4 linked regions of the Homo sapiens genome follow. The protein of the gene in region 3 purifies or fractionates together with the protein of the main gene of each other region. This does not show direct contact. Each region holds a gene or a part of one and is shown on either strand. Other genes may lie near its edges. The genes, in order: L1CAM, B3GLCT, CTSE and MTMR9.

The links.
Region 1: the proteins of CTSE (region 3) and L1CAM purify together in Homo sapiens (affinity purification with mass spectrometry; one large-scale study listed by BioGRID and IntAct). This does not show direct contact.
Region 2: the proteins of CTSE (region 3) and B3GLCT purify together in Homo sapiens (affinity purification with mass spectrometry; 2 studies listed by BioGRID and IntAct, with this or other methods). This does not show direct contact.
Region 4: the proteins of CTSE (region 3) and MTMR9 purify together in Homo sapiens (affinity purification with mass spectrometry; one large-scale study listed by BioGRID and IntAct). This does not show direct contact.

Annotation. Positions count from the first base shown.
Region 1 is NC_000023.11:153,857,488-153,865,673, forward strand, and holds the end of L1CAM (neural cell adhesion molecule L1 isoform 1 precursor), read right to left. Parts: intron 8,014-8,186; coding exon 7,812-8,013; intron 7,724-7,811; coding exon 7,601-7,723; intron 7,508-7,600; coding exon 7,334-7,507; intron 7,218-7,333; coding exon 7,098-7,217; intron 6,991-7,097; coding exon 6,835-6,990; intron 6,531-6,834; coding exon 6,396-6,530; intron 6,063-6,395; coding exon 5,990-6,062; intron 5,893-5,989; coding exon 5,881-5,892; intron 5,408-5,880; coding exon 5,176-5,407; 3' UTR 4,029-5,175; downstream 1-4,028. UniProt on the Homo sapiens protein: Neural cell adhesion molecule involved in the dynamics of cell adhesion and in the generation of transmembrane signals at tyrosine kinase receptors.
Region 2 is NC_000013.11:31,277,049-31,285,234, forward strand, and holds part of B3GLCT (beta-1,3-glucosyltransferase precursor), read left to right. Parts: intron 1-6,172; coding exon of another isoform or gene 6,173-6,219; exon of another isoform or gene 6,220-6,258; intron 6,259-7,599; coding exon 7,600-7,713; intron 7,714-8,186. UniProt on the Homo sapiens protein: O-glucosyltransferase that transfers glucose toward fucose with a beta-1,3 linkage. Specifically glucosylates O-linked fucosylglycan on TSP type-1 domains of proteins, thereby contributing to elongation of O-fucosylglycan.
Region 3 is NC_000001.11:206,021,096-206,030,077, forward strand, and holds the start of CTSE (cathepsin E isoform a preproprotein), read right to left. Parts: upstream 2,801-8,982; 5' UTR 2,697-2,800; coding exon 2,629-2,696; intron 1,963-2,628; coding exon 1,806-1,962; intron 1,173-1,805; coding exon 1,055-1,172; intron 73-1,054; coding exon 1-72. UniProt on the Homo sapiens protein: May have a role in immune function. Probably involved in the processing of antigenic peptides during MHC class II-mediated antigen presentation.
Region 4 is NC_000008.11:11,287,816-11,291,988, reverse strand, and holds part of MTMR9 (myotubularin-related protein 9), read right to left. Parts: intron 1-4,173. UniProt on the Homo sapiens protein: Acts as an adapter for myotubularin-related phosphatases. Increases lipid phosphatase MTMR6 catalytic activity, specifically towards phosphatidylinositol 3,5-bisphosphate and MTMR6 binding affinity for phosphorylated phosphatidylinositols.

The sequences.
Region 1 (8,186 bases), on a different chromosome or scaffold from region 3:
GAGAGAGAAAGGAAGAAGAAAAGAGAAAGAAAGAAGAAAAAAGAAAGAAGAAAGAAAACAGAAAGAAAGAAAAAGAAAGAAAGAGAAAGAAAGAAGAAAAGGAAGGAAGGGAAGAAAGGAAGGAAGGAAGGAACAAAGGAAGGGGAAGAAAGGGAGGGAAGGAAGGAAGGAAGGAAGTTGGTTAGAGAGAGGCCCACAGAGCTGAAGCTGGGTCTCTGAGGTCTGAGGTGGGGGCGTGGCCTAGCTAGTTGTGGAGGAGTGAGCTCAGTAGAGGGACTTGTGGGGCTGGGATCCAGACCTCTAAGGAGCAGGGGTCTGGCTGATGCTGGGGTCTCTGAGCTCAGGGGATGGCCTAGTACTCAGATTTTGGAGCATAGGGCACTGGGTGTCCGGTGGTGGTGTCTCAGAGGTGGGATGCAATGAAGCTGGTCTTGCAAGTGTTGAGAGATCTGAAAATTGGCTTCAGGCAGTGCCACGGAAATGAAGCACTTGCTGCAAGGGTGAAGAAGCCTTGTTAGATGGTGCGCCCAGGAAGGAGCAGGTCCCTTCTTCCTCCTCCAGTCTTGTGGGCTCCCTTAAACGCCCCCAGCTAGCAGAGCCTAGGAGGGAGGCGCTGGTAAAGCAGGAGCATCACCAAGCAGAGGACAGCAAAGGGGGTGGCACGCCCACTCCACAAGCCAGCACTGCTCCTTCTAGGGCACGGATCTCAGAGAAAGGACTGCATATGCCCACTTTATCCATGATGGCTACCATTGGAAACAACCCACACGTCCATCAACGGGGGAATGGGTAAGTGAGTCGCGGTGCATGCGTGCATACAATGGCTACTAGTCAGCATCACAGAGGGAAGAAGGGACACAGACGTCAACCTGGATGAGTCTCATGGAAGTGATTCCAGAAAGAAGCCGGCACAAAGGGCTCCAGAGCGTGTGCTTCCATTTCCATACCCGTCAGGAGCAGGCGAGACCATCTACAGCCATAGACGGCAGGACAGGGCTTAGATCTGCAGCCAGGGATTGGCTGCCTGGAGGCACAAAAGCATTCTCTGTGGTGATGCAAATGTTCTTTAGTTGGTCCAAGTTGTGGCTGCATGTGTGGATAGGCAGGTGAAAAAACCAGGCGTGCACTTGATTTTCTGCACAGTAATCCTCAATAAGGACTTGTTTCACGGATTTTTAGGGCAGTGGAGTTACTCTGTATGATACTGTAAGGGTGGATCCATGTCATTATACCTTTGTCCAAACCCATAAATGGACAACACCAGAGTGAACCCCGATGTCAGCTATGGGCTTTAGTTCATGCGAGCTTCTCACTGTGGCTCACCAATTGTAACAAACGTACTACACTGACTCGAAATGTTCATCATGGGGAGGCGTAAGGGGAGTGACGGGGTCTGTGGGAACTCCTTACTTTCCGCTCAATTTTTCTGCAAACCTAAAATTGCTCTAAAAAGCAAAATGCCTTAATTTTTTAAAAACCCAGGAAAGCAGCCCAGGGCCGATGTGGCAGCTCCAGGTGCTCAGGCCCTCGGGCTGCCTTTGTTGCTGTTCCGCCATCCTCAACGTGCGACTTCCCTTTGGTGCGACAAGGTAGCTCTCCCCATGATCACAGATCACATTTGCCTTTCAGCTGTAAGGAGACAGAAAGTGGCTGGCACAAGGCCATGCGTGGTGGCTCACGCCTGTAATCCCAGCAGTCTCGGATGCCAAGGCGGGCAGATCACCTGAGATCAGTAGTTCGAGACCAGCCTGGCCAACGTGGCAAAACCCTGTCTCTACTAAAAATACAAAAATAAGCTGGGTGTGGTGGCGGGCGCCTGTGGTCCCAGCTACTCTGGAGGCTGAGGCAGGAGAATCACTTGAACCTGGGAGGCAGAGGGTGCCGTGAGCCAAGATCATGCCACTGCACTCTAGCCTGGGTGATCGAGCGAGACTCCATCTCAAAAAAGAAAAAAAGAAAGAAAGAAAGAAAGGAAGGAAGGAAGGAAGGAAGGAAGGAAGGAAGGAAGGGAAGGAAGGAAGGAAGGGAAGGAAGGAAGGAAGAAAGGCGCCAGCACAGGTTTGCCCTGCAGGTATGGGTGCACTCATGCCCCACCACCCTACTGGGTGCATAGAGGCTGGGAAATGGGTCTTCAGCTGAGCTGCCATGTCCCCAAGCCACAAATCTAGTGTTATGGAAGAACAGAAAAACAGATATTGGAGGGCAATAAGTGGACGCTGTTACAGGTGGGGATCAAGGGGGACAATGAGTGTAGAGGAGTCTTGAGGGGTTTTGCTGTAAACAGGAGCAGTGAAACGGGGCAAGAGCCAGGGGGCATGCGGAGGCAGGAGCGGGAGCTTCCGGTGATAGAAGCTCCAAGGGCATGTTGGTATGCTGCTGGGCCTGACCCCACAGGGAGAGAGAAAAATTACAGGTGCAGAAAACAGGAGGAGAGAGGGGGTCTCAGGGGTGGCAGAGACCACTGCACATGGTGGGAAGTGTTCACCTGAGGGGGCTAGGGCTGGGGAGGGGACAGATTTGATGATGGGAACTCAAGGAAAGAAATTCTCGTCAGATGCTCTCAACTTGCTCAGTGAAACATGAAACAAAGTTCTCACCTTGAAAGTGCAGGGCCTGGGGGCTGAGGGGAAGGTGTGAGGCCTTGGAGAACCAGGGAGGAAACTCTAGAATTCCCAAGGAAGGCTGGCTCTGCCTGGGTCCACTTGAGGCTTGTGGTCATAAATCTAAGGTGCTTAGTCCTGGGCTGGGTGTGGTGGCTCACGCCTGTAATGCCAGCACTATCGGGAGGCCGAGGTGGGAGAATTGCTTGAGCCCAGGAGTTCGAAACCAGCCTGAGCAACATAGGGAGACTCCATCTCTACAACAATAATTTAAAGATTAGCCAGGCGTGGTGGCGTGCTCCAGTGGTCCTAGCTACTTGAGAGGCTGAAGCCAGAGGATTTCTTGAGCCCGGGAAGTGGAGGGCTCACCTGTGCTGGGTTTTCTTTCTTTCTTTCTTTCTTTCTTTCTTTCTTTCTTTCTTTCTTTCTTTCTTTCTTTCTTTTTTCTTTCTTTCTTTCTCTTTCTTTCCTTTTCTTTCTCTCCCTCCCTCCCTTCCTTTCTTTCTTTCTTGCTTGCTTTCTTGCTTTGTCTTTCTCTTTCTTTCTTCTTTCTTTCTTTCTCTTTCCCTCCCTCCCTCCCTCTCTCTCTCTGTCTCTCTCTCTCTTTCTTTCTTTCTCTCTTTCCCTCCCTCCCTCCCTCCCTCTCTCTCTCTCTCTCTCTCTCTCTCTCTCTCTTTCTTTCTTTCTTTCTTTTTCTTTCTTTGTCTCGCTCTGTCGCCCAGGCTGGAGTGCACTGGTACAATCTCAGGTCGCTGCAACCTGATTTTTTTACCTGCCTATCCACACATGCAACCACGACTCGGACCAAACTAAAGAACATTTGCATCACCACAGAGAATGCCTTTGTGCTTCCAGGCAACCAATCCCCAGCTACAGAGGTAAGCCCTGTCCTGCCATCTATGGCTGTAGATGGTCTCACCTGCTCCTGATCACGCCACTGCACTTCAGCCTGGGAGACAGAGTGAGACCCTGTCTCAAAAAATAAATAAATAAGGTGCTTTGTACTGGTTTAGAGGGCTGGGTACCCCAGAGAGAACGATGCCACCGGGGCACATCATGAGTCTTCCACTGAGCCATGGAGCTGTGTCCCTTGAGACAGGGGAAGAGGCTCCTGCCGCTGGCCACACTCTACTCTCATGTTTGAGCAGTGAAGGGCCCGGCCATGGTGACAGCTAAGCTTGGTCTCAGGAGGCCAGCAGAGGCGAGGATCCTGAGCCCCAGCAACAATGTGACAGCAACACCCAAGGCAGCCAACAGCCAGGCCTGGCAGGGTGGGTGGAAGGCCCGGGCTCTGGGAAGGGGCAGGGAAGCATCAGGACTGTGTGGCTGGGCCACACCCGGGCCCGCCTGGCAGGTCGCTCCTAGCACCTCCCACAGTGTGACGTGGACAGGGGAAGTAAGTGTTCCGCGAAATAACAAAAGGTGCTCTTGATTTTCAGGTTTTATTTGCCTGTTATAATTCTGATATTATGTACATATATATATATACTTTTGTTTTTTTGTAGAGGGCTTATCAGTAGACCAAGCACAGGCATACAGGGAGGCTGTGGCTGCTGAGCAGTGCTGGGAGAACCAATCTTTCCTTTTTTTTTGTCTGTTTTTATTTTTCCTGGGATGGGTTCATCAAAGCTAATTGCTATCAATCCTAGAAACCACCTAGGGACTCAGACATCTGCCTACACACTAGTGGCGTAAAGGGAAGGACAGGGGTACAAACTTTCAAAGTCACGGTGTATTTACATTCCCAAGGTGGGGGCGGGAGGAGGCTGAGGAAGACAACTGTTCAGACGATAGGGAGGGCAGGGCTGCTAAGGGGTCCTGGGGGGTGGGGGCGGCTGGAAGAGGCCGGCCAGTGGGCAGTGGGAGGAGGTGTGCCCGCCCCGCAGCCAGGTAGTGACGGAGGCCACTTGGATGTTGTGTGGTGGGTACCGAAGGCAGCGTGTGTATGGAGCTCCTGAAAGCCGGCCATGGGGTGGGCTGGGCGGCGGGAAGAGGCGGTGCTGCCAGAGTGCGATGCTGGGAGTGGGGGGACTCTGGGCTCTCCAGATGGCCTCCCCTGCCCCCGCGGCCAGTTTGCCCGGCTCCCATCCCGGTTGGAGCAGAGATGGCAAAGAAAAGACAGCAGATGGTGGGGACACCGAGTTCTGTTCCCAGTCCCAGCCAGGCTGGCTGGGGAGTGGCTGGGGGAGGGGGAAGGTGCCAACCCTGGTCCTGAGGAGACCCCACCATGTCTGCCCCCAGTCAGGGAGCAAGAAAGACAGCATTTCGGAGACCCTTTCGGGCCACCCCTACTTCTTCTCCCCCAAACCACAGCCTCTCTGCCCAAATGGGCTGGCAAAACAGCACCCAAAGGCCCCTGGCATGTGGGAGATCTGCCCAAGCTGGGGCAGAGCAGCGTGTGCCCAGGAAGGGGTGCAGCTGGGTTTTGGCAATAAAGTGGGGACCGGGTGGTAGGAAGGGGATCCGAGGCAGCAAGTTCTCCTCTGCCCCAACTCCAGCCTCCCATGGGCCTGCTGGAGAGGGAGGGGCCTGGATCCCAAGGCCAGGGGCACAGCATCTCCTGTCCTGGACTCCACTATTCTAGGGCCACGGCAGGGTTGATGGGGGAAGTGGCCCCTGAGCTGTCATTGCCCCCTGCCGCCTCCTTCTCCTTCTTGCCACTGTACTGGCCAATGAACGAACCATCCTCGTTGAACTGAACATCCACGCTGCCCCCATAATCGGCCAGGCTGTCGTCACTGCCCAGGGGCTTGATGTCCCCGTTGAGCGATGGCTGGCTGCTGCCAAAGGCCTTCTCCTCGTTGTCACTGCAGAGGCACAGGGCAGGTGCGAGTGAGAGCACTGCCGAGCCCCTGCAGGAGCCTGGCTGGGGGTGAGGCAGACGCCCGCCTGCCTTCCATTTGTTTAGAATGCGCTCAGAAAGAGCAGCTCTGGCCACCCTGGCAGGCAGGTCTGGAGCTGTCATCTTTGGGCATTCCCCAGATCCTGGGGACTGTGAGGGAGAAAATGTGCGCTCGGCCAGGGGATTATGGGGCCTGGTTCCTGTCTGGGAAGCTGTCTGGGGCCTCCCTTGGGGAGAGGGGAGCAGTGAAGGTATCTGTGTGGAGAGGAGGGGCTGGGGCGTGTTGGCCTCTCCCTGAAATGAGGAGCTGCCGGGCCTGGGGGCTGGGAAGTGAGAGTCCTGTCAGAGCCCCGGCAGCCAGGGGACAATGGCACACCAGGCGCACATTGTCTATAGGGAGACCTTGCTGTTGGCCCCTCCCCACCGCCCCTGCCTTACCTCTCCAGGGACCTGAAGTCACCCGGCAGCACAGAGAAGAGAGAGAGGGGGTGAGATGTGAAGGCCAGGGTGGAGCTGAGTGCCAGCACCCACTCCTGCCCCGGCTCACCTGTACTCGCCGAAGGTCTCATCTTTCATCGGTCGGGCCTCAGAGTCCACCTGGGTGTCCTCCTTATCCTTCACTGGAGACACAGAGAGGGACAGCTTCTTCTCCCGCCCCAGCCTGACCCGGGGCTCCAGGCCCCTCTACGCCCCGCACCCCCAGCACTCTGTCTCAACAGCGCCCAGAGGCAAGAGGCCTTGAAAGAAACCGCTCACCCCCTGCGGTCCAGCCACCACTTGCCTGTTGCCCCAACCCCGGCCTGGGAGGATGATCCCCCTGCCTGCCCCCACCATGCGCCTGTCATCTTGTGGGGAGCTCGGGGAATCCAGGAGGCCTTGCAGAAGGGTGGAAGGGGCGAGGTGCTCCTCTCTGCCCTCGGCTCCACCCCCGTCACGTGGGGCTCAGAGGCTACCTGAGTATTTGCCGCCCTTGCTGCGCTTGATGAAGCAGAGGATGAGCAGGACGAGGAGCAGGAGGATGATGGCACTCACAAAGCCGATGAACCAGCCCTCAGTGGCGAAGCCAGCAGGAGGGAGCCTCACGCGGCCTGAGGGTGAGACACCAGCCCCCCGTGCTGCCGCCCAAGCCAGAACCCGACCTGAGGCCCTGAAGTATGCTCTTAAAGTTGGGGCCCTCTGGGGGGCTAAGGAGTGACAGGGACAGGGAAAAGGGCATCTGCGGAAAGGGTATGAAAGGGGGCTGATTCGGGGACACCCAGATTCTGGGAGGAGAAGCAGACAGGAGCCGTGGAGGGAGCCTGGGCAGTAGTGGCCATTCAGGGGACAGAAGGACATGAATTGTGCAGCCCCCATGCTTCCCTGGCAGGTGATGGCGGGCCCCCGGCGCCTCACCTGTGCCATTGGTCTTCACAGCCATTTGGTGCCGGAACATCCTCTCCTTAAACAAGTGGATCTCGTAGTCAGTGTCAGGCTGCAGGTCCCACTGCGTGTAGGAGCTCTGGTTGTAGCTGACATACTGTGGCGAAAGGGAAGCCCCACCCTTCTCTTCTGCCAGGGAGAGAGGGTGGCAGCAGGGGTGAGTCGGAGTGCCAGGCAACCCCTCTGGCCCAGAGCCCCCTTCCCCACCACGCCCCAAGGCCCCCTTTCACGCTTACCTCCCAAGGCTTTGAACAAGATATGGAACCTGAAGTTGCACTGGCCCTCCTTGGGGACCCAGGAGACGACACTGTAGTTTTCACCCGCTGTGGCTGAGATGTTGCCAAAATCTGAGATCCCTGGGGGGATGCAGGGGAACGAGGAGAGTGTGGCAGCTGCCAGGAAGTCTAAGGCCCTCCCTCCTGGACCCGGCTGGCCGGGGCCTCCCTGTTGGCAGGTCATTCCTCCAGCTTACCAGACAAGGCCATAGTGCCTCCTTCCCGTACGATGGCTTCACCAGGGCCCTCTTTGGTGGTGGCCTGAAGCTGGAAGCGGTACCGCAGGTGGGGGCTGAGATCGGTCAGGTTGTGTGTCCGAAGTTCGGGGTCCCGAAGGTTGAAGGACAGTTGCCCCTTGCCCCCCTCATCCACTGTGGGGACAGACAGGGGTTGGCTGTGGCTGCAGCTCTGCCCCCTCCCCGTGGCCCCTCCACCTCCCTTCCCTGCTGGGGCGGCGCACGCACGGGGGTGGTAGGAGAGCACGTAGCCGGTGAGCACGCCGTTGTGGCTGAGTGGGGGCTGCCAGCGCAGCAGCAGGCTGGTGTTCGACTGGCACTCCAGGTGCAACGCCTCGGGGTGGCCAGGCACTGCAGGGCACAGAACCGAGTGGCAGGTAGGTCCTCGCCCAGGTCTGGGGAGGAGGGCAGGGGATGAGGCGTGGGGTGCAGGACTCACCTCCCTCTGGGGTGCTGAAGGTGAACTCGCTGGCGGGCCCCGATCCTCGCCCGTTAAAGGCCTGCACCTCCAGGTGGTAGGAGCTATAGGGCCGCAAGCCACTGAGGATGACACTGGTGGTGTTGGCGGGCACCACCACATGGTCTTTGTGGATATGTCTCTTGCTGTGCTTCCTCTGACTGCCCTCCCTCCAGTACGTCACCTGCACAAGCGAACAGGAGACCTCGCAGGGGCAGAAGGCACCCAGCAGGGCCCCCAGCGCACACCCCCACCACCCTTAATGGGGACCCTCCTCTCAACCCAAGTCTTCCAGGAGAGCGGCTGGCAGGTGGCAAAGCCCCCTCACCATCCTGTCGCTTTACCTCAGTGATCACC
Region 2 (8,186 bases), on a different chromosome or scaffold from region 3:
TTGGAGACTGTGTGAAAAACAGTCCATTTTGTCAAACAATGTATTAGGTCTGTGCGCAGTCTCTAAACGGGATGAAGAATGTCAGGGGATTTCAAGGTAACAGCATGCCAACAAAGAAAAAAGACTTTTTCTTCTTTTTCAATTTATTTCAAATGCTTACCTTGGAACTTGTTAGTTAAGAGATGTATTTGCTCATGAGTAGATAATATTGGAGAAGAAGAAAAAGCCGCGGTACAAACAGTGAATCTCTTCTTAAGGAAATCCTGGCATGCAGATTAATGTTGTTTTTATTCAGGTTTTTGATGTCATTACAGAATTCTGCTAAGTTGTGACGATAATGTAAAAAAAAAAAGCCCATCCTAAATATAAATAGACATAATTTCTCTCTTTTTGCACCTTATTTCAAGCAACACTTTTCTGAAATTGAAAATTAGGCAGTCTTTTGCATTTTCTAATTTTAGTGCGTATTTTAATTTTTTTCCCCATGAAAAGACTGTCAATTTCACCAAGGATGTGGTATTTATGTAGGAGAGATTTCTAAACCAACTGTCATTTTCATGGGATTGGAACTACTGAAGAAGTTCATTTATATATTTTATGTGATAATATGATACATACAAATTATATTTTACAGGGGAAGATGTTTTCCAAATAAAATAATATTATAATTTGAGATTATAGTATTGTCTAAGACATCAACATCAATTAAAATCCAGCTATAATCAATTATATCTTAAAAATACATTAACTATAAACCTTCATATTTGCCTAAAATGGCCACACTAAATTCCAAATCCTATTAAATCAGTCTATATGAATACATTTGTTATGCAACAAGTCCTAAGATACTGTGAAGAATCAGTATAGCAGTTAAAATAAAATTTTTATTTATCATAAATTTAACCTAAATTTAATATCCTTTTACTTTTTTCATAATATGGAAGGGTTTTGTGGGATTATTTTGACAAATACCTTCTTTAAATAGGTGTTGGGGAAATGAACTATACCGCTTTTTGTTTTGTTTCTTTTACAGCAAGCAGGAACTGTTTGAATTGATTTAATTGATCTTGAAGCTACACTTGGAGTAGTGATTGTTTTCACAATATTAATGTTAAGGATGGTGTTGCTGGTACTTTTTCTTTGAAACACATTTTTCAGGTCACAGTGAAGCAGTAAAATTAGGGACACTCCCTGTTGTATTTTTTATATTCTACAGAAATGAAAAAAAAAATAGTTTGTTAATTTTGATTTAGTAATTTTGAATAATCTAGTTTACTGCTTTCTTATTTTGCATAAGTTTGAGATACTCTTTTTAGATATTCATGAAATCCTTTTCTGTTTGAATTTTGAGTCAAAAGTCTTTAAAAATTACAAAATCTTAAAAGCCTATTAGGAGCATTAGAAACAAACCTTCCAAAGCCAGATGCATTGATTTACTGCTGTTAATTTGAATCTGGGATCATTAAAGCATGAGGCCTAAAATGTATCATGAAGTTTTCATATTTGGGTTTCTGTGGTAAGCCGTTTTTCAACTTGGATATGTTTGTTTGAAAAGATAGTCTAAGGCAACAGGATTTCAGTGACTTTGAAGTCCATTTTGCATGACTTCATGTAGCCTGCCAAGCCACCACTGGGCTCTGCCCCTCATTTTAGAAGCCTAGTCCAGCCATCAGTTGGCCCAAAGAGTTATCCAGTAATACCAGTTACAAGGATAACATCACACTAACTGCTTCTAACTGCTAATATTTCTTACATTTTCTGGTGTGTTTTTCACATATGTTCTATTACCTAGTTTCATGTTGACACTTCCTCGTGATATGATAATTATTGTTATTCACTTGTTGTGGAAAAAGCTGAGTATGGAATGATACACAACTGGCTCAGTTTCTTGTATCCTATTGAGTAGCAGAGCCAAAGACTTGGGTTTTCTGGCTCCTAAGTCCCACATTTTTTTCTACCACAGCACAGCTATACTGTAATCTCCTTGGATGTATTACAAACTCCATACTTGATAAATAGTCTTTGCTATTCATGTTGATGTCCTGCTATGCTCAAGGTCAGTTTTGACTTGGCCAGAAGCTGTGAAAGTAGGCTTTCCATTTTTAGTAGCAATGGGGATGGCAAGGAATTGAAACCCACACAGGATCTAAAATACAAATCGAGCTGAGAATTTAGACTGCCACTCCTATCTAAGCATATCACTGCTATAGTCAAGCAGAATACATGGTCTGGGGTGTTGGATTTTTTTTTCATTTTCTTTTCCCTGTGCACTCTATTAGTGGGGGAAACCAGCCCCCAATATTCAACGTGAGTCCTTTTCTATTTTCCCTAAGTGTTGGCCAGTCTGAGAAATAAAGGGAAGGAGTACAAAAGAGAGAAATTTTAAAGCTGGGTGTCCGGGGGAGACATCACATGTTGGCAGGTTCTGTGATGCCCCCTGAGCCGTAAAACCAGCAAGTTTTTATTAGTGATTTTCAAAAGGGGAGGGAGTGTACGAATAGGGTGTGGGTCACAGAGATCACTTGCTTCACAAGGTAATAAAATAGCACAAGGCAAATGGAGGCAGGGCGAGATCACAGGACCAGGGCGAAATTAAAATTGCTAATGAAGTTTCAGGCACACATTGTCATTGATAATATCTTATCAGGGGACAGGGTTTGAGAGCAGACAACCAGTCTGACCAAAATTTATTACGCAGGAATTTCCTCATACTAATAAACCTGGGAGCGCTACGGGAGACTGGGGCTTATTTCATCCCTTATCAACGACCATAAAAGACAGACATTTCCAAAGCGGCCATTTCAGAGACCGTCCCTTGGGAACGCATTCTCTTTCTCAGGGATGTTCCTTGCTAAGAAAAAGAATTCAGCAATATTTCTCCTATTTGCTTTTGAGAGAAGTGAAATATGGCTCTGTTCTGCCCAGCCTACAGGCAGACAGACTTTAAGGGTATCTCCCTTGTTCCCTGAATATCGCTGTTATCCTGTTCTTTTTTCAAGGTGCCCAGATTTCATATTGTTTAAACAATTTGTGCAGTTAACGCAATCATCACAGGGTCCTGAGGTGACATTTCATCCTCAGCTTATGAAGATGACGGGATTAAGAGATTAAAGTAAAGACAGGCATAGGAAATCACAAGAGTATTGATTGGGGAAGTGATAAGTGTCCATGAAATCTTTACAATTTATGTTCAGAGATTGCAGTAAAGACAGGCATAAGAAATTATAAAAGTTTTAATTTGGGGAACTAATAAATGTCCATGAAATCTTTACAATTTATGTTCTCCTGCCATGGCTTCAGCCGGTCCCTCCGTTTGGGGTCCCTGACTTCCCGCAACACTCTGTGGTAGAAATACTTCAGTAACAAAGGCCAAATGATGAAGGAAAAAAATCTAGAGAAACTGTACTTGTGTTTGCCAAGTTGAGAGTGGGGTGTACTGTTAATTGTGGGCACAGTGTCCCCTGGCACTGGGTGGTGATGGCCCCCACTCCTGCTTCATTATATGTTGGTTACCTTCTGGGATGAGAAGGAGAGATGGAACATGTTCTGCTCAAGGCCGTAGTCACAGCAAGGGAAAATATAGATTGCATTTATTTTTTATACTCTCATGGAAGAATTGATAATAAAACCAAGTTTCACAATGAAAAGAAATATTTTAAATATTGTACTTTCTTGGCTTAACAATAACACATTTATGTAATTGCTTTTGTCTGGATTCTGACTTAAGTGAAACAGCATTCTTAGAACACAACAAGCAAAAATATACTCTGTCTTTTGGCTCAAGGAAGTAATACATATTGACATCATTGAAACAGCAGCACCCTCTGAGAGGCAAGCATTTAGTAGGATTTTAAAGAAACTTGAGAACTGTTACATAAGGTGATGAATTGGGCATAGCATGTAAAATTATATTTAAGCAAGGAAATGATCTCTGGTGTTTTAATATTCAACTTGATTGCTTCCTCTTGGGTTCTGTGTTTCCCACTGTGTGACCTGAGCTGTCAGAAAACCTTAAGAATTTTCTTTGCATCATTTTTCCATGCAGTTTGTGTACATGTCTCATGTACCTCGTGGCAGCCACTGGTTTTGTTCATCAAATGGTGGGTTGTGGGATGCTCTCCTGCAGTCTCCCTCTAATTAAAGAGGTTAAATTGCCGTTTGCTCAGCCTTTAGTTCCTTTCCACAGCTTCCTAGGCTCTTAAAAATTAGCACTATATTCCTTTCAGATTAAAAAAAAACAAAAACAAAAACCTGTTTGCTGTCTTTACTGCTGTGGTCTTGTCTAGAGGCAAATCTGAACAAACTGATTGAAAGGGGTGTTTGGTGGCTGGTGTTCTCTTTGACTAAAGAGGCTTACATGTACTGTGGTACAGTCTGCTTACTTAAAAGGTGAGGCTTGAATTAAAATACAGCCAGATAGAAGGCCAGACTCTAATCAAATGAGGTGATTAGATCAATGAATGAAGAGAGGAGAGGAGTCAGGTGTTGCCTTTCCCTGGCTGTTGAATAGCTGATGTTCCAGATTGCCCTACAGTGTTGTGTTAGGGCATCCAGGAGGGATACTTTTCAGGCTTAGGTACACCTCAGTCTTTAAAATGAGGAATTAGGACACATTCATGTGTGTGTCCCTAATCTGCTCCTGAGAAGAGAAGTGCAATCAGGGTCTTATTTTGTGACCACTGACTTGCACACTGAGACAAAAGGGCCATCTGCAAGCTGAAAATAGTGGATTCCTTAAAATAAAAACTATTCACATTTGATGGTGTGGTAGTTTTAATAAAATGTTCAAGTGTCAAGTTCATTTTCATTTATAATCTGAGACAGTTTTATAAGTCACCTCCCTGGGGGTAAAAATGCATGTTCTGTCCTCATAGTGAGACACATCTTCTGCTTAGAGTCTAGAAAGCTCTAAGAAAGATTTATGCCATCTGTGCAGCTGGCATTTTTATAGTAAAATTTTTTTTACTTTGCTCCAAGTTTAAGTTATCTCATGACAAACTTTCTTGAAAGAGGCATTCACTATTATTATAGGAAGTATACTTCTTTATTGAAAAGGAGATAATGTATCAGGTAACTTATTAAAGTATTTTCTCAAAGTTTAGTATCTTTAGGAATACAGTGCCTCAATACAATATAAAATATTTTGTAAATAATAGAATGAATTCATTTTAGAATTTAAATGATGCTAATAAAATAGACCATTATTCTAAAAGTTTAACTAATTTAGAATCAACCCTGGTTGAAAATAAAGCCTTAAGCTGTTTTTTTGGAAGACTTTAAATCCTTTATGGCTAAGAGATGACAGACAGGGCCGAGTGCGGTGGCTCATGCCTGTAATCCCAGCACTTTGGGAGGCCGAGGCGGGCGGATCACGAGGTCAGGAAATCAAGACCATCCTGGCTAACACGGTGAAACCCTGTCTCTACTAAAAAATACAAAAAAAATTAGCCGGGCGTGGTGGCGGGCGCCTGTAGTCCCAGCTACTCAGGAGGCTGAAGCAGGAGCATGGTGTGAACCCAGGAGGCAGAGCTTGCAGTGAGCTGAGATCACACCACTGCACTCCAGCCTGGGCAACAGAGCGAGAGAGTGAGACTCTGTCTCAAAAAAAAAAAAAAAAATGACAGATGCATGGAGGTTATATTGACAAGGGGAGAGATGTACAAACTGTTGAATGCTTTAGGTATTGTAGAATCATAATATCTTAGTATATCTAAATGGTTGGCTTGTTTTAAAATGATTAATCAAAGGCTGAATTGCCTTTATGAATAAAACCTTCCTTTAACAAGCTTCCACAAATAATCCTAGGCCTTTTATTGAAATGCCTACAAAATTCAGTCCTCATTCAACTGTTTATTGAGTGTCTACTATGTCCTAGGCACTGTGCCAGGTGTTGGGAAATGAGTCATACACACACTAATTCTTACCTTTAGTGTAATTTCTATTTTACCTGTTTCAAAGTAAAAGAGAAAGCAAAAGTGCTAACTCACCCTTGATTTTGATTTTAATTTTATTTAACTCAGTTAATTGAGAAGAAACACCCGTGTTCTTTAATAAACCTATTAGAGCGAAAAAGGACTGAAAGCCTAAAGGCTGAGGAAATTGAAAGCAAAATTTGCACAGCCTGCAGGACCCTTGCTGGGGACTGAGGAAAGTTCTTGACCTTTCCTCACAGCTTCTTCCAGCATTATGCAATGGAGGATATTTTACCCAACAGTGTGAACTTTTAGTGGCTGCAAGCTGCAGGGAGCCCTTTCTGGGGTAAGTTCTCTTGCTTATTGTATGCAAAGCAAACTGCCACAGCAGTGCCAAGGTTAACATTTTTGTTGTGCTGAAATTTGGAAGTAGAACAGAGTGAAATTTTTTAACATTTCTTTTTTCCTTTTTTTGTCCGCCAGTAGCCCTATTATTTAGTACATCTTTGACCATTTTGACATGTAGAAACCTTTAGAACTATCTGCTTTTTTATGGTTGCAGAAAAATTATATTTTAATATATGAAATTAATATTTAACTGGTAATTTGGTAATTTTAGCAGATGTGCAGAACTCAGTTTTTTTAAAAAAAAAGCCAGTGAAAGAGATTATAAAATGATGCACTTCTGTATTTTCTATATAAGGGCTGTCTGAGCTGGACTCAGAATTTGCTTACTTATTAGCTAAACACTTAAATTTTACATTGGAACATCAGTTTTTGTATATATTTCTATTAGAGTTGGGAACAGGGGAAAGATACATGATCTGATAAAGTTTCTCAAAAGTTAAGTGAAGATTTGGTTCATCAGAGTTTTGACAGGATATAAAATCTAAATGTTTTTTCTATTGAAAAAACAAGAAACCACTTTTTAAAATTCAGAGATGCATAGGCAGTAATTTGTTTTTTAAGTATAGAAGAAAAGAATTACTTGGTCAGGTGAATTAATATCAAGTAGTGGTAAGTCTATATGTCAGGTATGCAGACAGAGCTATCTTTGAGCCTCCAAAGCCAAAATACAGAAAACCAGGACAGCTTTCTGTTGTGTTTATTGTGTTAAAACAATTTAGCTGCTAATGATAGAGTTTTAAAGCCTGCAGTAGTTTTGAATGTTAGTACTTCCACATTTTTCAAAAGTACAACATCGTAATATCAGTCATCATATGCAGTGATTCTCATTTGGCAAGGTCATGCCCTTTGTAGGGTTGGGTAGTTCTGTTAGAATCTTTGGGTGGGGACATGCATAGTTTGCAAAGGTCTTCTCATGCTCCACGGTAAGAGGGATGGATTTTCTCTTACCGTGCTCCGTGGTAAAAGAAAAATTAGTTAACATTAATGTAAACACAATAGCATAATCAAACCAGAAAATTTATCATTATATGGAAGTAAGTGCATTCATCACCAGGAATGAGAAATGCTTTACTCTAGAGAATGTTGAAAATGCTTCAAGAAGAGGGTTTTAGTCAACAACGTTGGCATTTCTCAGGGTTGGAAGCAAGCAACTCTTGGAACACCTGAAGAACAACCAGTAATGTTTCTCTTCCTTTGTAGATGATTATACTGCCATTTTGAATTTTTAAGCTTCCTTGTGTAACTGTGCCAGTGATTGTCACCTCTGTAATTTTTTCAGTACCTATTGTTAAGCAGACTTGGGAGAGCCAGGCAAGTCTCATTGAATACTATAGTGACTATACTGAAAATTCCATTCCTACTGTGGATTTGGGAATTCCTAATACAGATAGAGGTGAGTCATAATTCTTACTACTCTCCTTATTAAACATTGCCATTCTGTAAATACAGTAAATTAGGTTAGGATAAAAATGAAATGTTTTATAAGTGCTATAATTTTTGCCTCATATTAGTTTTTTCCCTTCTCTCAGATACTGATTGGTTCTTTCAAACTAAGGGCTTTATAGTACGAAGTGTTGCAAGTTTTTAGTAGCTTATATCCTATAATTGAGCACATGATAGTTACAGCAGAATTTAACAATAGATTTTTCATACCTTCATAATTCTTTGCGACCATGATGGGGTGTTTATTATATTCCCACATAAAGCTTCTCTCCTTGTCAGTCTTATAGTCTAGTTCACATATTATATTACCCGTGAGTACCACCTAATCACATTCTACACTAGTTATATGTAGAATAAACTGTATTCTATATGTTAAGATTTTAATTAGTAAATTGTTGGAAATAAACCTGCTTTTCTCTTCAA
Region 3 (8,982 bases):
ACTGAATGGAGAAAGATTGACCTGGCTGGCTGTATGTGCTGGACTGGGAAGGCTGGAACCTGCTGTGCGTCTCTGGAAAGAAGTGCACTGCTCTTGCTTATGCCATCGGCTCACTGGCTGCATCCCTGCCCTAATGCCACCCAGCCCCACAGCGGCAGGGTCTCTTCCCTCAGCTCTCAACACTGAGTGGGGGCCCCTAGAAGCCTGGTGATGCCCCTCCCTAATGAACAACTACATTTCCCTCTAGCTACAGATGTGGCCTAACTGGGGACCAAATAGCTATCCCTGAGCAAACCTGATTGTCCACAATGACCTCATGAGGCACACCAAGATAAGTGTCATTTATCAGGCGCCAGCCACAGTCCCTGCCACCCATTGTGGGTCAGAGGTTGGCTTCAAAAGAAACTCAGGGATAAACAATTGCCCCAGGAAATTACTCCCAACTTTTCTCCCAACCGATGGACATCTCTAGCCTTGGGGTTTCCAGAGACATTCTGTCTCTGGGACTTGTCCTGTATCGAACAAGACATCTTTCTGTAGCTCTTCTTTTCCAATCCTCACTGAAACTTCTGAGTTACCTCTGGACAAATGGACCCACCCATGCCATTGTGCCCCACCAGCCCCACCTGTGTGCACCAGGAGATAAGGCTACCAAGCCTCCTTGAAACAAGCAGACTATCTACACTAGAACCCGACTCACCTCCCTGCTCAGAAATAACCAATTAAATTAAACTTCCCCTACATTCCTTTGGGTGTTCCAAAGGAAGTGAGTCATTATGTCAAAGATTTCTCTTTTCAATGGCTTTCTTTCTATTAATTCTGATCAGTATGAAAGTTACTCTCTTGGACAGCAGCCACATTTTAGTTCTTCCTTGGCTTTGCTCTATCTCTGCTATAAGCAGTTCCACGGCTGACTCAAAGATGGAGAGTGGAAGCTGGTGTGGCAGGGATGGCCAGTTTCTGGAACCTAAGCCCCCCTTCCCCAGAGTACCAGGCTTGGCCTCCCAGGACTAGCCCCCAGACATTCTCTGCTGGTGCTCCTGGCCCCACTTACTGCAGGCTGGGCTAGTGCAGTACACAGAGGGGACCCAGAGGTTGGAGGAGCCAGTGTCGAAGATGACAGTGAAGTTCTGTGGTGGGGAGCCAATGGAGATAGTGCCGAAGTATTCCATCTGCAAGGAAGAGTGAGAAGGAAAGAGGGTGTGGGTGGTGGGGAGGGACAAGGGTGCTCACCAGGAAGCCAGGGGAAAGCTCCCAGGGGCCAGAGCCTGGGGTAATACAGACTGGAGTTTACAGAGCCTAGGAAGTGGCAACGCTGGAAAATAAAAGGTAAAAGGAGCAGAGAAATGGCCATGAAGGAGGAAATCAAACCAAGCCTCTGGCTACTTCATTTGATTTTACTTGCACTAACCTGATTCTTATAAATACATTGTAGGAGAGGCAGTGGAGGAAGAACCATCTGTTTTACAGACCAGGGAACTGGGGCTGGGAGAGGTTAAGTAACTTGCCTAAGGGTACACAGCCAGTAAGCTGCCCAGCTGAGAGCAGAAGCAGGGGCCTTCAGTGTGGGATGATGCTTTCACTCCCAGCCCTTTCCTTCTGCAGAGAACTCTGACATTTGGGTACATGGGGGCCTGCTTAGCCAACTCCATGGGGACCCAGGGAATCAGTCCCCATGGATCATCATCCAAGTGAAGAAATCCACAATGGCCTTCGGTGCTACTGATGTGGCACTGGCCATGCCCTAATGCTGGGCCTTCCTCCCGCTCCCACCTCTCCCCAGCCCTGACCCCAGGAGGCCTCACATCCAAGTAGTTGATGAGGGGTTCCTTGGCACTCTGGTCCATTGAGCAGGACTCGGTGAACTGGATCATGTCCAAATTATGGGATTTCCAGAACTCAGAGAGCTGGCTCCGTGCCCGCAGCTTCTTCTTGAGGGACGGATGCCTCCTGAGGGGCACCCTGGAGACAAACCCCCATGTAAGCAGGAGATGTACTTCTGCCTCCCTCTTCCCCCCATTCTCGTCCCATTTTCTCAGGGGCCAACTAGAGAAGATGGGGTGGGAGGGGGGGATCTGCAAGACAGCACGCAGGATACAGGTGGGATCAGCGTCCTCTCTGCCACTCAGCCTGCCCGGCCTCATCTCTGCCCTATAGAGTCTTAGAATCTTAGAGTGGAAATGGCTCCCCTCCTGGAGCTGAGGTCTTTGAGATCTAGGAAAATGGGAGATGTGGGGCGGTCTACAGTTTTACATGAACATCACGAAGGGCTGATTTAAAGGGACAGAAAAACTCTTGGGGACAGTGATGGTCAGTCCCCTGGGGAAGTCCTGGGGCGCTTTGAGCTACAAACCACAACTGCAGGTTCCTGCTCTTTTGCAACACAAGAAGACCCCTGGGACTTGGGAAGGCACCTCCGTGGAGGTGGAGGCAGGAGGATGACTTGTTGAGGACTGGAGATTAAGGCCATACACAGGCGGTCACTGGATGAGTCTCTTCCATGCATTGACGCAAGCCCTCAGCTTCTCCTCCTCTTCACCTCCCCATCAGCTTTCCTACCCCAGAGCAGCCCTGAGTTGCAGGGCATGGGACTACCCAGCTGAACACAGTGCGGGGACGTCTTCTCACCTGTGAAGGGATCCTTGGGCCTCTCCCAGCTCCAGGAGCACCAGCAGCAAAAGAAGGAGCGTTTTCATTGTGAGTCCGACCAGCAGCTTCTCCCTTGCCCCCTCCTTTCTTCTCTCCCCGAGGGCAGTGGGAACGGACTTTCCCTAACTCTCAGACCTGCCCAGCCCAGTCTGAGGGCCGAATGATAAGGCCCTGGAGTCATTAGCCATGCCCAGAGTAAATACGGCATGTGGAACAGGGCGTTCCCCCTGCACCTCTCCGTCCCTTTCCCACCTACAAGAGGAATATGAGTCTGCGGGGAGAACTTGGGAGTCCTCTGGGGCTTGGCTTCTCTCAGGGCTTTGGCACCTCCTCTGACCCCAAGAAACCCTGTTAATGAATCCGGAGGGCAGCACATGCCTGGCTGCCTGGAAAGGCCCACTGAACTCTTACTGCAAGTGCTCTAGCTGGAGACTCTGGAGGGGTGGGAGCTGACTTGTCATGGGTGGCAGGATTCTAACTCAAAATATTCGTCAGTCTGTTTTCTGGGTGATTCCTGTTCTCTCCTCAATCTCTCAAATGCTCCAAAGGCAGTTTATCCTTCCCTGGCCCACTTTGAAGCACAAACCAGCACTCCTCAAAGGCCCTGAAATGGGAAAATGTAGCTGCAGATTTATGGAGCCCACTCTCCTGACTCTAAGGACTTGATGAATCTGGGGCTGGGGCTCAGGGGTGTGTGGAGGAGAATGCAGGGGCAGCGAGGGAGGGTCAAGGGGGTCAGCGTCTACAGCAAGTGCCCGCATGAGTCTACTAAAGCGGCCATGACAAAGTACAGGGGGCTTAAACAACAGAAATTTATTTTCTCACTATTCTGGAGGCTGGAAGTCCAAGATCAAGGTGTTGGCAGACTTGGTTGCTTCGGAGGCCTCTCTCCTTGGCTTGCAGATGGCTGCCTTCTCTCTGTGTCTTCACATGGGTCTTCCCTCAGCGTGTGGCTGTGTCCACATCCACATTTCCTCTTCTTATAAGGACGCTAGTCATATTGGAGTAGGGCCCACCCTAATGACTGCGTTTACCCTTAATACCTCTTTAAAGACCCTATCTCCAAATACAGTCACGTTCTGAGGTACTAGGTGTTAGGACATCAACATGGATTTTGGAGGACAAAGTTCAGCCCTTAACAGTGCTCAGGGACAATAGGATCTTCTATCTGTCAAGTGGGACTAAGCGCAGGGGTGGAGAGTGGGTGGGGCTCAGGCCTTAGTTACCGCAGTGTGTGAAACCCCCTCACCATCAGCCTATCTCTGTGGCCACCCGCCTCATAAACAGATGGTGGGGCTTCAGTGCCTGGGGTGGGGATGAAGGGGTTACAGGTAGGAAGACCCTGACCCTGACTCAAGTTAGCCAGGGCAGCAGAGGCCACCACCATATGCCAATGCTTCCAGAGGGCACTAGCTCAGCAGTAGGAAGTAGATGGCCTGCGTTTAGGTTTAGCTCTGCCCTGACCAGCTAGTGTTCTGGAAAATCTCTTAAGTGCTATGGGATCTGCCTTTCATCTCTGAAGTTCAAATGGCAAGCAAACGTGGAGTATGGAGCTAAGCCAAACCCACCCTTGGGTCCAAAAATGTTAAAAAAAGACATCAAAAAGACTTAAGGAACAGCCTAGACCTTTGACCCCTGAACCCAAGGCAACAAAGCCTCTTTGGCATTTCCCAGGAGCCCGTCTTGTTGATCTTTCACTGGGGAGAGTGGTCTAAACCTAGAAGGGCAGCTTGAGTCAGAAGTGGCTAGAAGTGGAGATCATTCATTTTGGCAGTAAACTCTGCCATGTTTTGCCCGTAACTGCTTATTCACCACATACCTTAGTTTTGTCATCTGCCAAATACCTTACCTACATCAATGGGTTTTTAAGGAGGATTAAACAAACAAAATAAGGTACAGATATACTTGTTGTACTGCACTCTGCTTTACTGCACTTTGCAGATACTGCTTTTTTTTTTTAATTGAAGGTTTGTGGCAAACCTGTGTCAAGCAAGTCTATCAGCACCATTTTTCCAATACTGTGTGTTCATTTTGTGTCTCTGTGCCACATTTTGGTAATTCTTGCAATATTTCAAAGTTTTTCATGATTATTTTATCTGTTTTGGTGATCTGTACTCAGTGATCTTTGATGTTACTGTTGTAATTGTTTTGGGGTACCACAAACTGCACCCGTGTAAGACAGAGAATTTAATAAGTGTAATTGTGTGTTCTGATTGCTCCATTGCTCTACTAACTGGTCATTCCCCCATCTCTCTCTCTCCCTCTCTTTCTCTCCCCCTCGGGCCTTCCTGTTGCCTGAGACACAACAATATTGAAATTAGGCCAATTAATAATTCTACAGTGACCTCTAAGTGTTTAAGTGAGAGGAAGATTTGCATGTTCCTCATTTTAAATTCAAAGCTAGAAATTATTAAGCCTAGTGAGGAAGCCATGTTGAAAGCCAAGAAGGGCTGAAAGCTAGACCTCTTACACCAAACAGTTACCCAAGTCATGAATGCAAAGAAAAAGTTCTTAAGGGAAATTGAAGGTGATATTACAGGGAACACACAAATGATAAGAAAGCAAAATAGTTTTCTTGCTGATATGGAGAAAGTGTTATTGGTCTGGATAGAAGATCAAAGCAGTGACAACACTCCCTTAAGTCAAAGCCAAATCCAGAGCAAGGCCCTAACACTCTTCAGTTCTATGAAGGCAGAGAGAGGTGAGGAAGCTGCAGAAGAAAACGTGAAGCCTATGGAGATTTCTGCAAGGTGAAGCAGAAAGTCCCAAAGCAGAAGCTGCAGCAAGTTATCCAGAAGATCTAGCTAAGATCATTGATGAAGGTGGCTACAATGAACAACAGATTTTTAGTATAGACAAAATAGCCTCATACTGGAAGAAGATACCATCTAGGACTTTCATACTAGAGAGAAGTCAATGCCTGGATTCAAATCTTCAAAGAACAGGCTGAATCTTTTGTTAGGGGATAATGCAGCTGGTGACTTTAAGTTGAAGCCAATGCTCATTTGCCCATTCTGAAAATCCTAGGGCCCTAAAAAACTATGCTAAATAGAGTTTGTTTGTGCTGTATCAGTGGAACAACATAGCCCTGGATGACAGTACATTGGTTTACAGCATGGTTTACTGGATATTTTAAGCTTGCTGTTGAGACCTACTGCTCAGAAAAAAAAAAATTCTTTTCAAAATTTTACTGCTCATTGACAATGCAACTCATTGCCAAAGAGCTCTGATGGAGATTTATAAGGAGATAAATGTTTTTATGCCTGCTAACCCAATATTCATTCTGCAGCCCCTGGATCAAGGAATAATTTTGACTTTCAAGTCTCATTATTTAAGAAATGCATTTTGTAAAGCTATAGCCACCATAGATAGTGATTCTGATGGATCTGGGCAAAGTAAATGGAAATCTTCCGGAAAGGATTTACCATTCTAGATGCCATTATGATTATTCATGATTCATGGGAGATCAAACTATAAAATTAAAAGGAGTTTGGAAGAAGTTGATTCCAATCCTCATGGATAACTTTAAGGGGTTCAAGACTTCAGTGGAGAAAGTAACTGTAGATGTGGTGGGAATAGCAAGAGAACTAGAAGTGGAGCCTGAAGGTGTGACTGAATTGCTGCAACCTCATGATCAAACTTGGATGGATGAGAAGTTGCTTCTTATGGATGAGTAAAGGATGTGGTTTCTTGAGATGGAATGTATTCCTGGTGAAGATGCTGTGAACACTGTTGAAATGCCAACAAAAGATTATGAATATTGCATTAACTTGGTTGATAGCAGTAGTAGGGTTTGAGAAGATTACTCCAGTTTTGAAAGAAGTTCTACTGTGAGTAAAATGCTATCAAACAGCATCATATGCTACAGGGAAATCTTCAAGAAAGGAAGAGTCAATCTATGTGGCAAACTTCATTGTTTTCTTAGTTTAAGAACTGGGCGCTGTGGCTCGTGCCTGTAATCCCAGTATTTTGGGAGGCCGAGGCGGGCAGATCACCTGAGGTCGGGAGTTTGAGACCAGCCTGACCAACATGGAGAAACCCCATCTCTACTAAAAATACAAAACACCTGGGTGTGGTGGTGCATGCCTGTAATGCCAGCTACTCAGGAGGCTGAGGCAGGAGTATTAATTGAACCTGGGAGGCGGAGGTTGCAGAGAGCCGAGATCCTGCCACTGCACTCCAGCCTGGGCAACAAGAGTGAAACTCCATCTCAAAAAAAAGAAAGAAAGAAAGAAAGAAATTGTCATGGCCACCCCAAACCTGGAGCAACTACCACCTTGATCAGTCAGCAGCCATTAATGTCCAGGCAAGACCTCCGCCAGCAAAAAGGTTATGACTCCCTGAAGGCTCAGATGATTGTTAACATTTTTAGCAATAAAGCATGTTTTAATTAAGATGTTTTTAGACATAATGCTATTGCACACTTAATAGACTACAGTACAGGGTAAACACAACTTTTGCATGCATTTTGAAACCAAAAAACTTGTGTGATTGACTTTATTGCAATTTTCACTTTATTGCAGTAGTCTGGAACCAAACCCACAGTAGCTCCAAATGATGCTTGCATGTGGAAGTTCTTGAAAAACTGTAACATGTCATGTGAACTAAAGATTGTCACTAAAAACTTCAGTGTTTCAGAAGTGCTGGAAGGGTTCTTACAGACTCTCAAGACAAACCCACTTGTATAGCAGAATGAGAAAACTGAGGCAGAGAGGCAAAGTGATCAGCCCAAGAGCACATGGTTCATTTAGTGGCTGATCTAGGATTAGGACTCAGCCCTCCTGACTTCTAAGCGGGCAAACTTTCTGCTACAGAATTATAGCATCATTATCACTGAACTGTTGAAAGGGGGCTAACCATAACCCCTCCCTCCTTTTCCATCTTTTAGACCTCTCCCTGCATCCCTCTTGCCCCTGTTTACTAAATGTAGAGAGTTTGCCTGGCCCAGGCTTGAGAAAAAGCTGACTGGTCCTTGCAGCTGTGGGCCACCTGACTACTGAGTGGAGCAGACACAGCCTCGACTGCCTGCAAGGAGCCCCTGGGTCTAGCTGGATTTTGGAAAATTTGACAAAGGTTAAGAGCAGGAACACTGGGGATGTTTGTCAGAGCTAATGGGATCTGTCCTCTCCAGAGACACCAGGAACTGAACCTACCCTGGCTGTAGATTACTGGCCTTTTCCAGCAAGAACCAAATATTGCTGTGGACAATTTGAACACTTTCCAAAGAACAAAAGACCTTAGGCATATGTGTGGTTGTCTGTGTGTGTCCTTTGAGCAGAGGGAGAGAGAAGAGCATTTGAGGTGAAATAGTATGATGTGGGGGAAAGTGACACATAGTATAGTCAATGATCCGGTCTCTCTGCATTAGGAGAGGGTCTTTGGAGAGAGAGAGAGAGGGGTGGGGGGAGAGAAAGAGACGCTCAAGAACGTGGATTGGAGGCTGGCTGGATGTAGAGACTTTGTTCCCAGAACATTTGAAAGCTGGTGGTGGTGTCACTATCTAGTGAACTTCTTTCTGGAGCTTCAGCTTCCAGAAAGTAAATTAATAATAAGAGGACATTTGGGAGGCTGAGGTGGGCTGATCACTTGAGGTCAGGAGTTCAAGACCAGCCTGGCCAACATAGTGAAACCTTGTCTCTACTAAAAATACAAATATTAGCCAGGCATGGTGGCACGTGCCTGTAATCCCAGCTACTCAGGAGGCTGAAGCGGGAGAATCTCTTGAACCTGGGAGGCAGAGGTTGCAGTGAGCCCAGATTGCTCCACTACCCTCCAGCCTGAGAGGGCAACAGATGTCTCAAAATAAAATAATAACAATATAAGAGGACAGTTGCTCAGTGCTCTGTGGATAAGTTTTATCAGGGCTCGATAGCTCCTAGAACAGAGTCTGTTACTGTCAGACATGAGCTGGCTCCTGCTCACAGGGGAGCCGGCACCGCAGGATGCACTCCAGGATGCCTGACTCTTGCAACACATTGCTGGTTCAGCACAAACCTGGCCAACTGGGAAATGGCCCAACCTCTTTTGCTTAAAGTTAGGAAATGAGGGAAAATCCACGATGCTGTGTGTGGTACAGTAGAAAGATGTCTGTACCAGGTGAGATGAGATGAGATGAGATGCCTGGCTCCAGTCCTGGCTCTGCCACTAACTGGCCATATGATCGCAGATAAATCCCTTCTCTCTGAATCTAGTTTTGTTGCCTATAAAATGAAGAGGCTTGATTGGGTGACAATATCAAGGAATACTTTGGAAGCATTAGCTCTGTGCTAGGCTCTGAGCTAAGGGACTTACAAGCATTAGTTCATTCAAATCTCTCACCAATCCTATCAGCTA
Region 4 (4,173 bases), on a different chromosome or scaffold from region 3:
ACTTATGGTGACAGTTTCAGGGTGTGTACATATATCAACACACATCAAAGTTTACACTTCAAATATATATAGTGTGTAATACGTCGACTGTACCTCAATAAAACTGTTTTAAAAATCACTGTCATTCTGCTTCAGCTGGAAGTGAAAGACACACAGCAACCAAACTGTCAGTAAAAAAACAAAAAAAATGTACAAGACATACGGTTATTCTCTTGTAAATTTCCATATCATCTATGCTTGTCATACTAACTCATTTTGTAAGGTGAATTTTGTTTTGTTAGTCTGGCAGGTTTTATGTAGTTGCTATAAAGTATAATGAATGACTAGAGGAGTTAAAAATAATTGTTACTTTATGTCAGAATAAATATGCTATAAACTATTAAGGTATTCTCCATTCATTTATTCAATGTTTCTAGTCAGTTACTTATAGAACAGTGGGCCAAGAAAAATATGTTTTAAAAACATAAGAGCTCCACAAAACTCCTATGATTCACATCAATTGTCAGATTCAGTTCTATTTTATCATTTTGTCCTTATTGTCCCATCCATGCCCTGTATACATCCCTATCACAGCATTTAAAATACTTTATTAAACTTTCTAGTTTATATGTTTATTTCTTATAATGGTCTTAGTTTTTTCAGGTAGAAGGCATGTTTGATTAATTTCTATATCCTCAGCTCCTAGTACAGCACCTAGCATATACACCATCTTAAAGTTCCACTAAGGGACTTAAAGGAAGATCTGAATAAATAATGTAACATTGTTCATGGATGTCAAGATGTCAATTTGACTCCAATTAATCTATAAATCCAAAACAATTCATTTTTTTAAAATCCTATGAAAATTGTATAAAGTCTGTGGTCTAGTTAATAGTACTGCACCAATGTCAATGTCCTAATTTTGTCCTCATTTTGATTACACTACAGTTATAAAACAGGTCAACATTAGGGGAAGCTGAGTGGACGATTCTAAAACCTCTATGTGCAATTTTTGCAACTGCCTTTGAGTCTTCAATTATTATTAAAGACTTTTAAAAATCCCATGAACATAGCAAGTTTTCCAAAATTGCATGGAAACATAAAGGTCGAAACATAGTTGTCAACTTTAAAAAAAAAAAAAAAAAACGAAAGCGGGGCAACTAGCACTATCCGATTTTTGGACACATCACAAAGCCACAGAAGGAAAGAGAATATGATGATGACAAAAGAGCAGATTAATGAACCAATGGATTATGACAGAGAGCTCAGAAACAGACCCGTATATATAGGATAACTTGACATAAACCAGCCAAGGTTGGGTTGTCACGTGATGGGATTAAGAAAACTGGCTTGCTCTATGGAGAAAAATAGGTTCTTATCACACTTGAAACAAAGATAGAATCCAAATTAAAGACCTAAAAATGAACAGTAAAACTATGAAGCTATTATGGAAGAAAATGTAGGAGAACATCCTGGTGATTTGGGGACAGGGAAGGAGTTCTTAAGACAAGCCACACACCATAAAGCAAAACATTGGCAAGTTCTGCATTAAAAGTAAAGATTTCTGTTCAACAAAGGGCACCACAGAAAAAAACAACAGATGGGTGACACACTAGAAAACATTCGTAATGCCTAAATGGAGAATGAACACCCACAGAGTATACAAGGTACCCATGCAAATCAACATGAGAAGGACAATAAACCCAATGTTTAAAAGTAGACCACAGAAATTAGGCAATTCACAAAAAGGAAAAAAAAAAATTTTAAGTATACTGCTCACAAGCATATACAAAGATAATTAAACACTAATAATTAATGAAATTCAAATTAAAACAAAGCAATAACTATTTCACAATCTTCAGACTGGAAAAATTAGAAAGACAATACCAAATGTTGGTAAGAAAGTGGAGACGAGGTACCCTCTCCTGCACCATCATGGGAAGGCAATGTGCAATTGTCATCCTGGAAAGCAATTAGTTTGTGAAATGAGATACGCACCTACTTTATGGCGCCATCCCATCCTAGGGGCAGTCTCAGAGCAATTATGGCACAAGACTATATAAAGGGACATGAATGAGTATGTTTACCAGAGTTGTTTGTGATAGCAGGGAGTTGGAAGTTACCTAAAAGGTCTGTTAAGGAAGCTCTTTTAGATACTTTGGAATCCTATGCTGTCAGAAGCAGTGAAATGGTTGTACACACAGCAATATGAAGAGATCTTGAAACAGTATTGTGTCACCATATTAAGAAGCAGAACAAGATCTACAACATAATCCCAGTTAGGCAAATTAAACTCACACATGCATGTGTGCGCACACCCATACACAATAGTGCTATCTATTTTATAGCAACAACTAACGTGGTTGCCTACAGGGATTGTGGATGAGGCAGGAAACGGGAGTGAAAATTAGGGAGGAAGAAAATCAACAACAGAGGAAACCTTTTAAGGAATCAATCATGAAAATGATGAGTCATCAACTGAGTAGTAGTAACTCAATTTTCTGAGGTCCATTAAAAAAAAAACCAGGTATAACTGTAAAACTTGTATACAACCTTGCATGTTGAAAGGATCAAATAAAATGATGTAAGCGATATATATGAAAGTATTCCACAGACTTGTGAAGCATTATTTAAACTTAAGTTTCTACGAGGTTAAGTAGTTTGCCCAAAGGCACTTGTCTAGTAAGAGGCAGAACTGAAGGAGTTACCCTTAATGACTTTCTCACCTCATTTACAATTCACCAGCAAGGCAAGGCAGCTCCACTTTCAAAAACACATCCCAAATCAGATTCCTTGTGACTACACTACTGTTTTTTGTTTGTTTGTTTGTTTGTTTTGAGACAGAGACTCACTCTGTCACCCCAGGGTGGAGTTCAGTGGTGCAATCTCAGTTTACTGCAACCTCGGCCTCCCAGGGTGAAGTGATTCTCCTGCCTCAGCCTCCTGAGTAGCTGGGATCAGAGACATGCACCACCAAACCCAGCTATTTTTTGTATTTTCAGTAGAGATGAGGTTTCACCATACTGGCCAGGCTGTGTCGAACTCCTGACCTCAGGTGATCTGCCCGCCTCGGCCTCCCAGAGTGCTGGGATTACAGGCGTGAGCCACCGTGCCCGGCCTACCATCATCTTTTATGTGAACTACTCTACTCTCCAAGCTGGGCCTGCTGCTTCCAGTCTTGCCCCCCTACAGTTTATTTTCTGCCAGCAGCCAGAATTGTCTTCTGAAACATCTATCAGCTGCTGCTTCCTAGCTTTCACCTCTCCAAGGGCTCCCATGAAAACCATTACTGTGGCCTGCAGGCCCTCCACGGTCTGACCACTGCTTATCCCTCCAGCCAGTCTCTACCATCAACTTCCTGTACTCTCTGTTCCCTGCCCTGCAGCCACACTGGCCTCTTCGCTCTTCTCTGCACATGCCAAGCATGTTCCCCATCTCAAGTCTTTGTATTCGCTGTTCCCTCTGGCTGCAATGCTCTTCCCCCAGACACTCACAGTTCTAGCTTCCTCATTTCATTCCGGTCTGTAGTCAGATGTCACCTGCCTTCTCTGAAATCCTTTCTAAGGAAACTGCCTCCCAGTGCTCTTTATCCTCTCATCTTCCGTTACTTTCCTTCCTGGCCCTTATTACCTGACATCATTATATATATATTATATATATATAAATATATTATATATTTATGTATATATATTATATATACATATTATAATATATATTATATGCTATATTATACTATATTATAATATATAATTATTATAATATAATTATTATTATTATATATTATAATTATTAATATATTATATATAATAATTACATGTATTAGGTGAATAGGTGAATAAATAATTATTCACCTATTCGCTGAATAATTAGGTGAATATTTAGGTGAATAATTATTTAATATAATTAGGTGAATAATTATATATATTATATAGGTGAAATATAATATATATTATATAATACGTATTATATAATATATATTATATATCATACGTATTATATACTATGTATTATATGTAATATATATTATATAATACATATATAATACATAGTATATAATACGTATGATATATAACACATATTATATAATATATAATACATATTATGTTATATATAATACGTATTATATATGTTATATATTATAATATAATATATAACATATATAATAAAATATATAATGTTATATATTATATATTA